Linked DNA regions of Homo sapiens. The protein of the gene in region 1 purifies or fractionates together with the protein of each later gene. This does not show direct contact. Each region holds a gene or a part of one and is shown on either strand. Other genes may lie near its edges.

The links.
Region 2: the proteins of TSEN2 (region 1) and TOX2 purify together in Homo sapiens (affinity purification with mass spectrometry; one large-scale study listed by BioGRID and IntAct). This does not show direct contact.

What each region holds. Positions count from the first base shown.
Region 1 is NC_000003.12:12,490,050-12,495,855, forward strand, and holds part of TSEN2 (tRNA-splicing endonuclease subunit Sen2), read left to right. Parts: intron 1-2,086; coding exon 2,087-2,168; intron 2,169-2,179; exon of another isoform or gene 2,180-4,256; intron 4,257-5,806.
Region 2 is NC_000020.11:44,000,924-44,005,351, forward strand, and holds part of TOX2 (TOX high mobility group box family member 2), read left to right. Parts: intron 1-4,428. UniProt on the Homo sapiens protein: Putative transcriptional activator involved in the hypothalamo-pituitary-gonadal system.

The DNA.
Region 1 (5,806 bases):
CTTCTCCCCATCCCAGCCATACCCCCACACCAACCATGAACAATGTGTATTCTTTCCTTGCGGTTTGGTCCAGTTGTAGGAAAAGTACAATTTGAATTAGTGCCCAAAAGCCATATGTTAGGGTAATAGAATGACAGATGGAGCACCCCTGCCCACAAACCTTTATTTCAGTGATGAAGTAGGTTCAATGGATTGACTATTTTTTTTGTCTTTAGTTGTAAAAGCAATGCATGTTTGTTAAAGGAACAAAAAAAGTAATTTACAGAAATGTAATGGGTAAAAAAGTGAAAATTCCCCACTCACTCCCATCCCGTTCCCAGAGGTAGCCACAGCGTGGCATAGTGTCCCTACTCAGGCACGGATCAGATGGGGCTTTGGCATGGAGCTCCTTATCTGCTGCCTCCTGGTTGGGGACCTCTTCTCAGATGAGGACAAGTTCTAGTTTTTACTGTTTTCCAGCATTGATCAAGTTGAATGAAGACTGGTAGTTCTTTAAAAAAAATTTTCCATAATCTGTTCATTGCTGTGGGCATTTTTAAAAAACAGCTTTATTGAGTTATAATTTACAACTATAAAGTCCTCCCATTGTAAGTATACAATTCAGTGATTGTCATAAATTTATAGAGTTGCACAACTCTCACCACAGTCCAGTTTTAGAACATTCCCATCACCACAGAGTTCCCTTGTGCCCATCACACTTAATCCCTGCTCCCACTCCCGGCCCAAGGCAGCCACGGAATGGCGTCTTGTCTCCATAAATGTGCCTTCTCTAGACACTTGATAGAAGAGTGGGTGGCACTGGCCATGGTGAGGCAGGAGTCTCAGTAGGCCAAGGGCAGCTCACCAGGGAGGCCTTCATTTACAGTATATAACATTAAGCAAGAGGCTTTATAAAGTGCTGTATGCATTATTTATTCTTGGTTTTTGTTGTTGCTGGGTGTTTTTTTTGTTTGTTTTTTGTGACAGAGTCTTACCCTGTCACCCAGACTAGGGTGCAGTGGCATGATCTCAGCTCACTGCAACCTCTACCTCCCAGGTTCAAGTGATTCTACCACCTCAGCCTCCCGAGTAGTTGGGACTACAGGCGCATGCCACCATGCCTGGCTAATTTTTGTATTTTTTGGTAGAGACAGGGTTTCACCATGTTGGCCAGGCTGGTCTTGAACCCCTGACCTCAAGTGATCTGCCCACCTCGGCCTCCCAAAGTGCCGGGATTACAGGTGTGAGCCACCATACCTGGCCTCTTTATTCTGATTGTTAATCTAAATGGAGAAAGGGGTGTTTGTTTTATTCTTTCAATTTTCTGTGTGTTTAAATATTTTGTAATGAAAAGGGGAAAAATACATGTTGTTTTTGGAATCAGCAGGAATGAGAGGAATACTTCAATTCTGGAGTACAAAAGAATCCAAGAGGTTTTTTTGGACCTAGTGGGCAGCATGGCTCCTGCCTTCAGGCACACTGTGTTCCCGAACCATATGTAGAGAAGAAACTCTGCCTCTGCCTGCCCTCGGCTTATCAGACCTAGACTGAAAGCATTAGTTATGGGATAAATGAGGTGTGCTAAAAACTTACTAGTACTCTTGAAGCGATTAGAAAGGTGTTACGCTAAGAACATCCTTAGTCATCATTAGATAATCAGAGGGAAAATGTAAAGACATGAAAAGTGGGGCGAACCTCTTGTTAACTCAGATGGGTACAGTCGGCCCTCCATATCATGGGTTCCACTTCCGTGGATTCACCCAACCTTGGATTGAAGATATTTTGGGAGAAAAATTGCATGTGTACCAAACGGGGACTTTATTTTCTTATATTAAACAATATAACAACTATTTACATAGCATTTGCATTGCATTAGGTATTATAAGTAGCCTAGAGATGACTTAAAGTATATGGGAGGGCCTACGTAGACTATATATAAATACTGCACCATTTTATATCAGGGACTCGACCATCTGCCGATTTTGGTATCCACCAGAGGTCCTGGAACCAGCCCCCTGTGGATACTGAGGGATTACTGTATATTCTACCTCAGCTAAAAAACTGGTAACTAAGCATGAACTAACTTCATTTTCTCTCTTCCTGGAAGGGTTATTTTGGAAAAGGTATTCTTTCAAGAAGCCGTCCAAGCTTCACAATTTCAGATCCTAAACTGGTTGCTAAATGGAAAGGTAAAGTTGTTGTATCATTCAGTTCTTTTGACAAATTAATCATTTTCCTTTGTTTTTGATCTTATATCTCAGGCTATATAGTAAAATTCTAGAGAAGTAACATGTACACTGGCAGTTTTACTGCCAAAGTTAGCTAGAATAATTCTAATCAAAGCAAAAGGGTTATGATTGGGTGACAGTGTGTTTAATTTCTAGAATTATCAAGTGTTAATTGGGCTTTTCTGTTGTTAAGTGTTTGCTTAGCAGAGTACTATGCCTATGGCAGGTACTGGTAGTTAAGTACCTGCTCACCTGTGGCACTATGCAAAATTTTTAAAATTTTGTTTCCAGAATTAGAATTTGTAATAGCCATGACATGTATGTGTGTGGTTCTCCCTTGCTGATTCTCTTTAATTTATAAATGTTTTAGAATATTTATCTAAGGAATTCTCATGGTAATTACTTAAGAACCAATACCAGCATGTTAAAACATAATTAGAAAGGATCTTTTAAAGGTTTTATTGTAAGAAAATATACAGATTAAAACTGCACTGAGATAACATGTCAACAATCAGGCAGAAATCCAAAAGTCTGACAATATACTGCATTGGTGAGGACTTCAGAAACAGACCTTCTCTTGCATTGCTGGTGGGGTGCTTGTGGTACCACCCTCATGGAGGTGAATTTGGCAATGTCTAGCAAAATTACCTATGCATTTACTTTGTTTTCTTTTCCCCCATTCCTCTCTTTCCTCAGTCCCTGGTAACCTTTATATGTTTTCTGTCTATGAATTTACCTATTATAGATATTTCATATATAAATAACAATCATACAATATTTGCCCTTTTGTGTCTGTTGCTTTCACTTAGCATATTTTCGAGGTTTGTCCCTGCCATAGTGTCTATCAGAACTTCATTCCGTTTTATAGTGGAATAATATTCCATTGTTTGGACATAGTGCCTTTAGCTCATCTGCTGATGGACACTTAGATTGTTTCTGTATTTTGGCTTTTCTGAATAATACTGTTGTGAATATTTGCATACACGTATCTGAGTCTATTTTTAGTTGTTTTGGATATATACCCAGGAGTAGAATTAATGGGTCATATGATAATTGTCTGTTTAACATTTTAAGAACTAGCTAAACTATTTTCCACATTGACCGCATCATTGTACATTCCCACCAGCAATGCACCAAAGGTTCCAATTTCTCTACATCCTTGCCAACACTTGTTTAAAAAAATAATAGTCGGCCAGGCGCGGTAGCTCACGCCTGTAATCCCAGCACTTTGGGAGGCCGAGGCGGGCAGATCATGAGGTCAGGAGTTCGAGACTAGCCTGACCAAGATGGTGAAACCCCATCTCTACTAAAAATACAAAAATTAGCCGGGCATGGTGCTGTGCACCTGTAATCCCAGCTACTCAGGAGGCTGAGGCAGGAGAATCACTTGAACCCGAGAGGCAGAGGTTGCAGTGAGCCGAGATTGCACCACTGCACTCCAGCCTGGGCGACAGAGCAAGACTCCGTTTCTAAATAAATAAATAAATAACAGAGCAAGACTCCATTTCTAAATAAATAAATAAAATAAAATAGTCATCCTAATGAGTATTAAATGGTAAAAGTTTTTCATTTTAATGAAGTCCAATTTATCTATTTTTTCTACTATTGCCTGTGCTTTTGGTATCTATTTAAGAAACCGTTGCCAAGTCCAAATCATGCAGATTTCCCTGGTGTTTTCTTTTAAGAGGTTTATAGTTTGAACTCTTAAGTTTAGGTCTTTGGTCCATTTTGTGTTAATTTTCGTATACTGTGTAAAGTAAGGGTCCAGCTTCATTGTTTTGCCTGTGGATATCCAGTTGTCCCAGTATATGCGTTTACTTTTGATCCAGCAATCTCACTTCTAGGAATTTATCTTAACAATACGCTGACAAAAATATGAAAAGAAATAGCACAGGGCTATTCATGCAACACTGTAATATCCAAAGACTGGGAACAACTTACATGTTCATCAGGAGAGGACCTGTGGAATAATCCATATTTATATAATTAATCCATATAATGAAGGACCGTGGAGCTGAGACAGGAATGGGAGATCGCTAGGATATGCTGGTAAGCGAAGACAGCACAGTATAAAGGAAAGTACATGCTGTGCTGTGGTTTATCTAAAAAGATGGAAATATAAAATAGATATTTTATTATATTTTTTGAGACAAGAGTCTCACTCACTCTGTCATCCAGGCTGGAGTACAGTTGTGCAATCTCCGATCTCAGCTCACTGCATCCTCCACTTCCTGGGTTCAAGCGATTCTCCTGCCTCAGCCTCCTGGGTGAGTAGCTGGGATTACAGGTGTATCCCACCATGCCCGGCTAATTTTTGTATTTTTAGTAGAGACAGAGTTTCGCCATGTTGAGCAGGCTGGTCTCAAACTCCTGACCTCAAGTGATCTGCCTGCCTTGGCCTCCCAAAGTGCTGGGATTACAGGCATGAGCCACTACGCCTGACCAATTTTTTTTAAATGGAAGGATAAAGCATAGTTTTTTAAAAATTCCAGTAGGAAGGGATGAAACAGGATGCAGAGAGAGGTGAGACTTTATAGATTTGACTTTGTAACCATATAAATGTATTACATAATTATAAAAAAAGTTTGGCTGGGCATGGTGGCTCACACCTGTAATCCCAGCACTTTGGGAGGCTGAGGCAGGCAGATCACCTGAGGTCAGGAGTTCAAGACCAGCCTGGCCAACATGGCGAAATCCTGTCTCTACCAAAAATACAAAAATGAGCTGGGCATGGTGGCAGGCACTTGTAATCCCAGCTACTTGGGAGGCTGAGGCAGGAGAATCGCTTGAACCCTGGAGGCGGAGGTTGCAGTGAGCCAAAATCGCGCCACTGCATTTCAGCCTGGGTGACATAATGCAACTCCGTCTCCAAAAAAAAAAAAAAAAAAAAAAGTTAAATTTTTACAAGAGATTTTTTTAAACATAGAAATGAAGTAACTGAAGCTTATATCAAGTTGGTTGTATAACCACAGAGTGAGAAATTATTTTGAGTAACTTTTGGTTTTTTTGGAGATAGGGCCTGGAGTGCAGTGGTGCAATCTCAGCTCACTGCAACCTCCACCTCCTGGGCTTATGCCGTCCTCCTACCTCAGCCTCCCGAGTAGCTGGAACTACAGGCACATGCCATCGCAGCTAGCTAATTTTTGTGTTTTTTGTAGAGACAGGGTTTCACCATGTTACCCAGGCTGGTCTTGAACTCCTGAGCTCAGACAATCCACCCGTCTCAGCTTCTGAAAAGTGCTGGGATTACAGGAATGAGCCAGTGAGCCTGGCCATTTGAGTAACTTTATAGTGATTTGATTGTTCAACCTAATCGGATAGACTTTGCATCAGTTACTTCTTGTCACAATAATGCTGCTTAGTAAACCATCCCGAAAGGTATTGGTTTTAAGCAGCAACCATAGTAGTCACTAGGTGTGCAATCTTGGCTGGGTGTGCTCACTTTCCTGTGGGGTTAAAGCTGAACATCATCTCTTCCAAGCATTTAATGCATGCAGACGAGGCTGAGTTTGGGAAAAGAGAAGTAATTAGCCCAAAGGCAGAGTTAGGAAAAGACCAGGACGAAAACCCAGACCACTGGGTGACCTGATAAACATTTC
Region 2 (4,428 bases), on another chromosome or scaffold:
AGACTGAGCATTGGCCACTGGATTTAGGAAGATGGAGGTCATTGATGACCTTCCCAAGCAGTTTTGGTGGAAGTGGGATGAAAACATGATTGGAGTGGGTTTAAGAAAGAACGAGTGGAAATGAAGAGGTAACTCTTTGCAGATTTCCTGTAAGATTTTACTAATATTTTTAACTGGCAAAGCTCTTACGACTTAGCATCTCTTTCTATATTTTCATGAGGATGCCAGTGGTAGAGAGAAAATTAGGCACCATGGAACGGCCAATTCTACTGTAGGAAAATGCTGGGTTTGGAGTCACAAGACCAGGGTCTGAATCACAACCAGGACCTACTAGCTATGTGACACCTCTACTCTCTAAGCTCCATGTCCCTCATCTGCAAAATGAAGATAATAATCACTTCTCTACAGAACACATATGAACTAAATGGAGAAGGTACATGGACATGCTGGGCTCAGTGCCTGGCACATAGTAGGTACTCAGGACAAGTTGTTTAGTGTTCAGTGTCATGCATGTAGGATTTGATTGCATTCAGAAGAGGCATGTTCATGTTTGCGTGCTTAGTTATTTTTAAGTGTGCTAATTGCCTCTTTAAGTGAATTGTCATAATTGTGTGATTCCAATATTTTGATACAGCATATGCTTATTTTTTCAAAAGGCTTCTGGTCAATTGGGCCGGTTCCAGTGGATTGAAGTTTTGTTTTTTGACTGAAAGGAATGGACTTGAGCAGTCAGTTAGCATTCACTGGGCACCTTCTCTGTGCCAGCACCTGCTCTGTGCCAGCACCTATTTTAACAGTGCTGAGGGACAGGGAGGGAGGTGTCGGTCAAAACACATGAACAGCAGGTGGCTGAGGGGCGTGTAGTATGCTGGGAAGGAGAGCTGTGGTTTGAAACTAGAGCCTGGGACATTCCCCCATTTCCCGTGCCCATTTATTGTGTTGTAATGAGTCATTACTGTGCACTGTGCTAGGCACTGAGGACAAGAGAGTTAAAGGACTTCCCCAAAGACACAGAATAAGTAAACAGCAGCTCACTGGCTCAGGATCCTCATTTATGAGTGTTCCTAACTCACACAGCACAGGTCTGAGCACCACAGGGTGATGTGTGTCTTCAGCCTGACCACCAAGATGGGCTGGGGGCCGATTGCCTTTAGGTGGCAATAAGCCACAGATATCATATCACCCCAGAAAGTAGAGTCCCACTGCCAGCTTTCCAGTTCAGAGTCGCCACCTCCAGGAAGCCTTCCCAACCCCTCTGCCCATTCTAAGGCAAGACTCTACTCCTTTGATGCTCCCTATACAATTCCTTGTGTGTGTCCCCCATAGTATCATAATATTCATGACCACCTGCAACCATTTTGACTCTACTTACCTTTTGCTTGTGTCCCTGTCCCCCATATCCCAGTGTGCTACTGTTTGCTTATTCTGTGTCCTTGGGGAAGTCCCCACCATCTCTGAAACTCCAGATGAGGGCAGCAAGGATAGCAATAACTAACGCTGACATCACTCACTGTGTGCTCAACATTGCCCTGAGAAACTTACATGTTATTGATTCATTTATTCTTTATAGCAGCCCTGTAGATACATACTGTCATTACCTGCTTTCTCACACATGAGGAAACTGAGGCACAGAGAGGGTGTTTTAGTCTGTTTTGCATTGCTATAAAGGAATACTTGAGACTAGATCTTTTACAAAGAAAAGAGGTTTAATTGGCTCATGGTTCTGCAGGCTGTATCAGCATGGCACCCACATCTGCTCAGCTTTTGATGAGGCCTCAGGAAGCTTTTACTCCTGGGAGAAGGTGAAGGGGGGAGCAGGCATGTCACACGGCAGGAGAATGAGAGAGAGAGAGGGGAAGAGGTGCCAGTCTCTTTAAACAACCAGCTCTTGCATGAATGAATAGAGCAAAAACTCACTCATTACCACAGGGAGGGTCCCAAGCCACTACTGAAAGATCTGCCCCATGACCCAAACACTTTTGGCTCAGCCCCACCTCCAACAGTGGGTCACTTTTCAACATGAGATTTGGAGGGGACAAATATCCAAACTGTATCAGAGGGTAAGTAATGCACCCAGAGTCACACACAGGCAGTAAGTGGCAGAGCCAGGATGCAAACCCAAGCTGCCTGGCTCCTAACCACTGCACTGCACTGCCTCCTGCGTGATAGGGACAGTAGTTCCCAGCTCCAGGGCAATCATGAAGGTTGAGTGAGATGCATGTTTATGGTGTCCACCCCAGGACCTGGCTGTACATTCAACTTTTTTTTTTTTTTTTTTTTTAAGATGAGGTCTCCCTCTGTCACCCAGGCTGGAGTGCAGTGGCACAATCACAGCTCACTTCAGCCTTGACATCCTGGGCTCAAATGATCCTCCACCTCAGCCCCCGAAGTAGCTGGGACTACAGGTGCATGGCCACACACCCAGTGAATTTTTGTATTTTTTTTTGTAGAGATGGGGTTTCACCATGTTGCCCAGAGTGGTCTCAAACTCCTGGGCTCAAGCGATCCTCCCGTCTTGGCCTCCCAAAGTGCTGGGATTATAGGCCAACTCATTGTTTCTGAGCTCTTACTTTGTGTTCCAACTCTGTGCCAGGTCCTGACTGAGGCATTGGGGATATAGGGAGCAAAACTCATGTTAAATATCAGACAAATAATCACACAAGAAGTCAGTTAACTACTTATAACGATGAGTGCTTCCAAGGAAAAATTCTGGGCAATCTTGGGGTGTGAAATGGGGTTTGATCTACCCTGGAGTATCAGGGAAGACATTTAAACAAAACCTATTGTGGAGAGATGAGTAGGAACTAACCACGGGAGGGACAGTGTGTGGCAGGCGGAGTGCAGCAGAGGGAACTGTGTAGGGGAGAGCCCAGAGGCAGGAGAGGTCACTGTGGTTAGAGGGGTGGTGGGGCCAGGCCATACAAGGACTTCCAGGGCTGGATCTGGGACTGTGGACTTCATCCTGAAGGCAGTGGGGAGCTCATCATTTGATGTGGGATTGACATCGTGTGATGATCATCTTGACAGAGACCAGTCTGGCTACAGAAAGAGAATAGAGCAGCCCGAGTGGCCAATGAAAACGGCTGGTAAGAGGTGGTGGTGGCCTGGACTAGGATAGTGGCAGTGGGAAAGAAACAGATTTTAAAGATATTTTGGAGACATTTCATTGGATTTGAGAGATGTCAGGGGGTGAGTCCCAGGTTCGTGGTTCTATGAACGGGATGGAAGGTAGTGTCACTTGCTGAGATGTAGAGGACACAGGGACACGGCAGGGGAAGGGGTATTATGATCAACAAACGAGAACATTGACTGGGCATCGAGAGGCTCCGCCCTGGAGCTCAGATGAGTGACCAAGGCTGGAGGGGTAAATGTGGCACTTAGATGAGAATCGAAACCCAGACTGGTTGAGGTCCACCTGGGGAGGCAATGTAGGGCAGGAAGAGAGGGGAGTTCAGGACAGCCTGAGGAACCCTAGATGAGAACAGAGAAGGAGAAGGTGAAGCAGGAAGGTGGACATGGTCATGGCCTGTTCCCAGATGACTGTTTGCCCATCTATGAGATCATCCCACTGCAGCCCTGCAGAGGGAGGAAATGAGCAAGGGGCCATGTGGGCTCTGGGTCCCAGTGGTGGGTCCCAGGGTGGCAAGGCACTTACCCTCTCAGTCTGTTCTACGACTGTAAAGGGTAGTCTAGGGCTCTCCCCCATGGAATTTAGGTATCTTGTGCTTTCTGCTGTTGCCACAGGCTGTACACACACCCAGCTATCCCCGCTGCTCAGTAACTTCATCCAGCAGACACTCAGGGAATTGGCCACCACCAACCAGGTCCTGTGCCAGGCTCAGTGACCTTCACTATTTTAACACACGCACTTAAACAATACAATGATGCTAGAAGGTGTTATTTCTTACATGCTATTGTGGTTTAGGTTTCCCCCCACCTCTATGCATATTTCTTGATTGATTTAAGATTTAGCACTGTAGGTAACAATATATGTTACGTAGTTATATAGTCTGAAAGAGCTAGAAGGAAGATATTGAATGTTCCCAACACAAATGATAAATGTTCAAGATGCTGGATATGCCAATTACCCTGATCTGATCGTTATGCATTATTTGTATCAAAACATCACTGTGTACCCCATAAGTAAGTACCATTATTTTATGTCCATTTAAAAAATGAAAGAAAAAGTGTAGAAAACATTTACCTTTATATTTACCAATGCCTTTGATATGCTTCCTCTGTTCTGGAACATTCTCAACTATTATCTCCTCAGTTCTCCCCTGACCTATTATTCTCTCACTCTTCTCCTTCCAGAATGCTGATTGAACAGGCATCCATTAGACACTCTTACTCTGTCCGCTGTGCACATAAACTCTCTTTCATATTTCCTTTTTGACCGTCTATGCCAAACTCTGGATAATTTCTTCA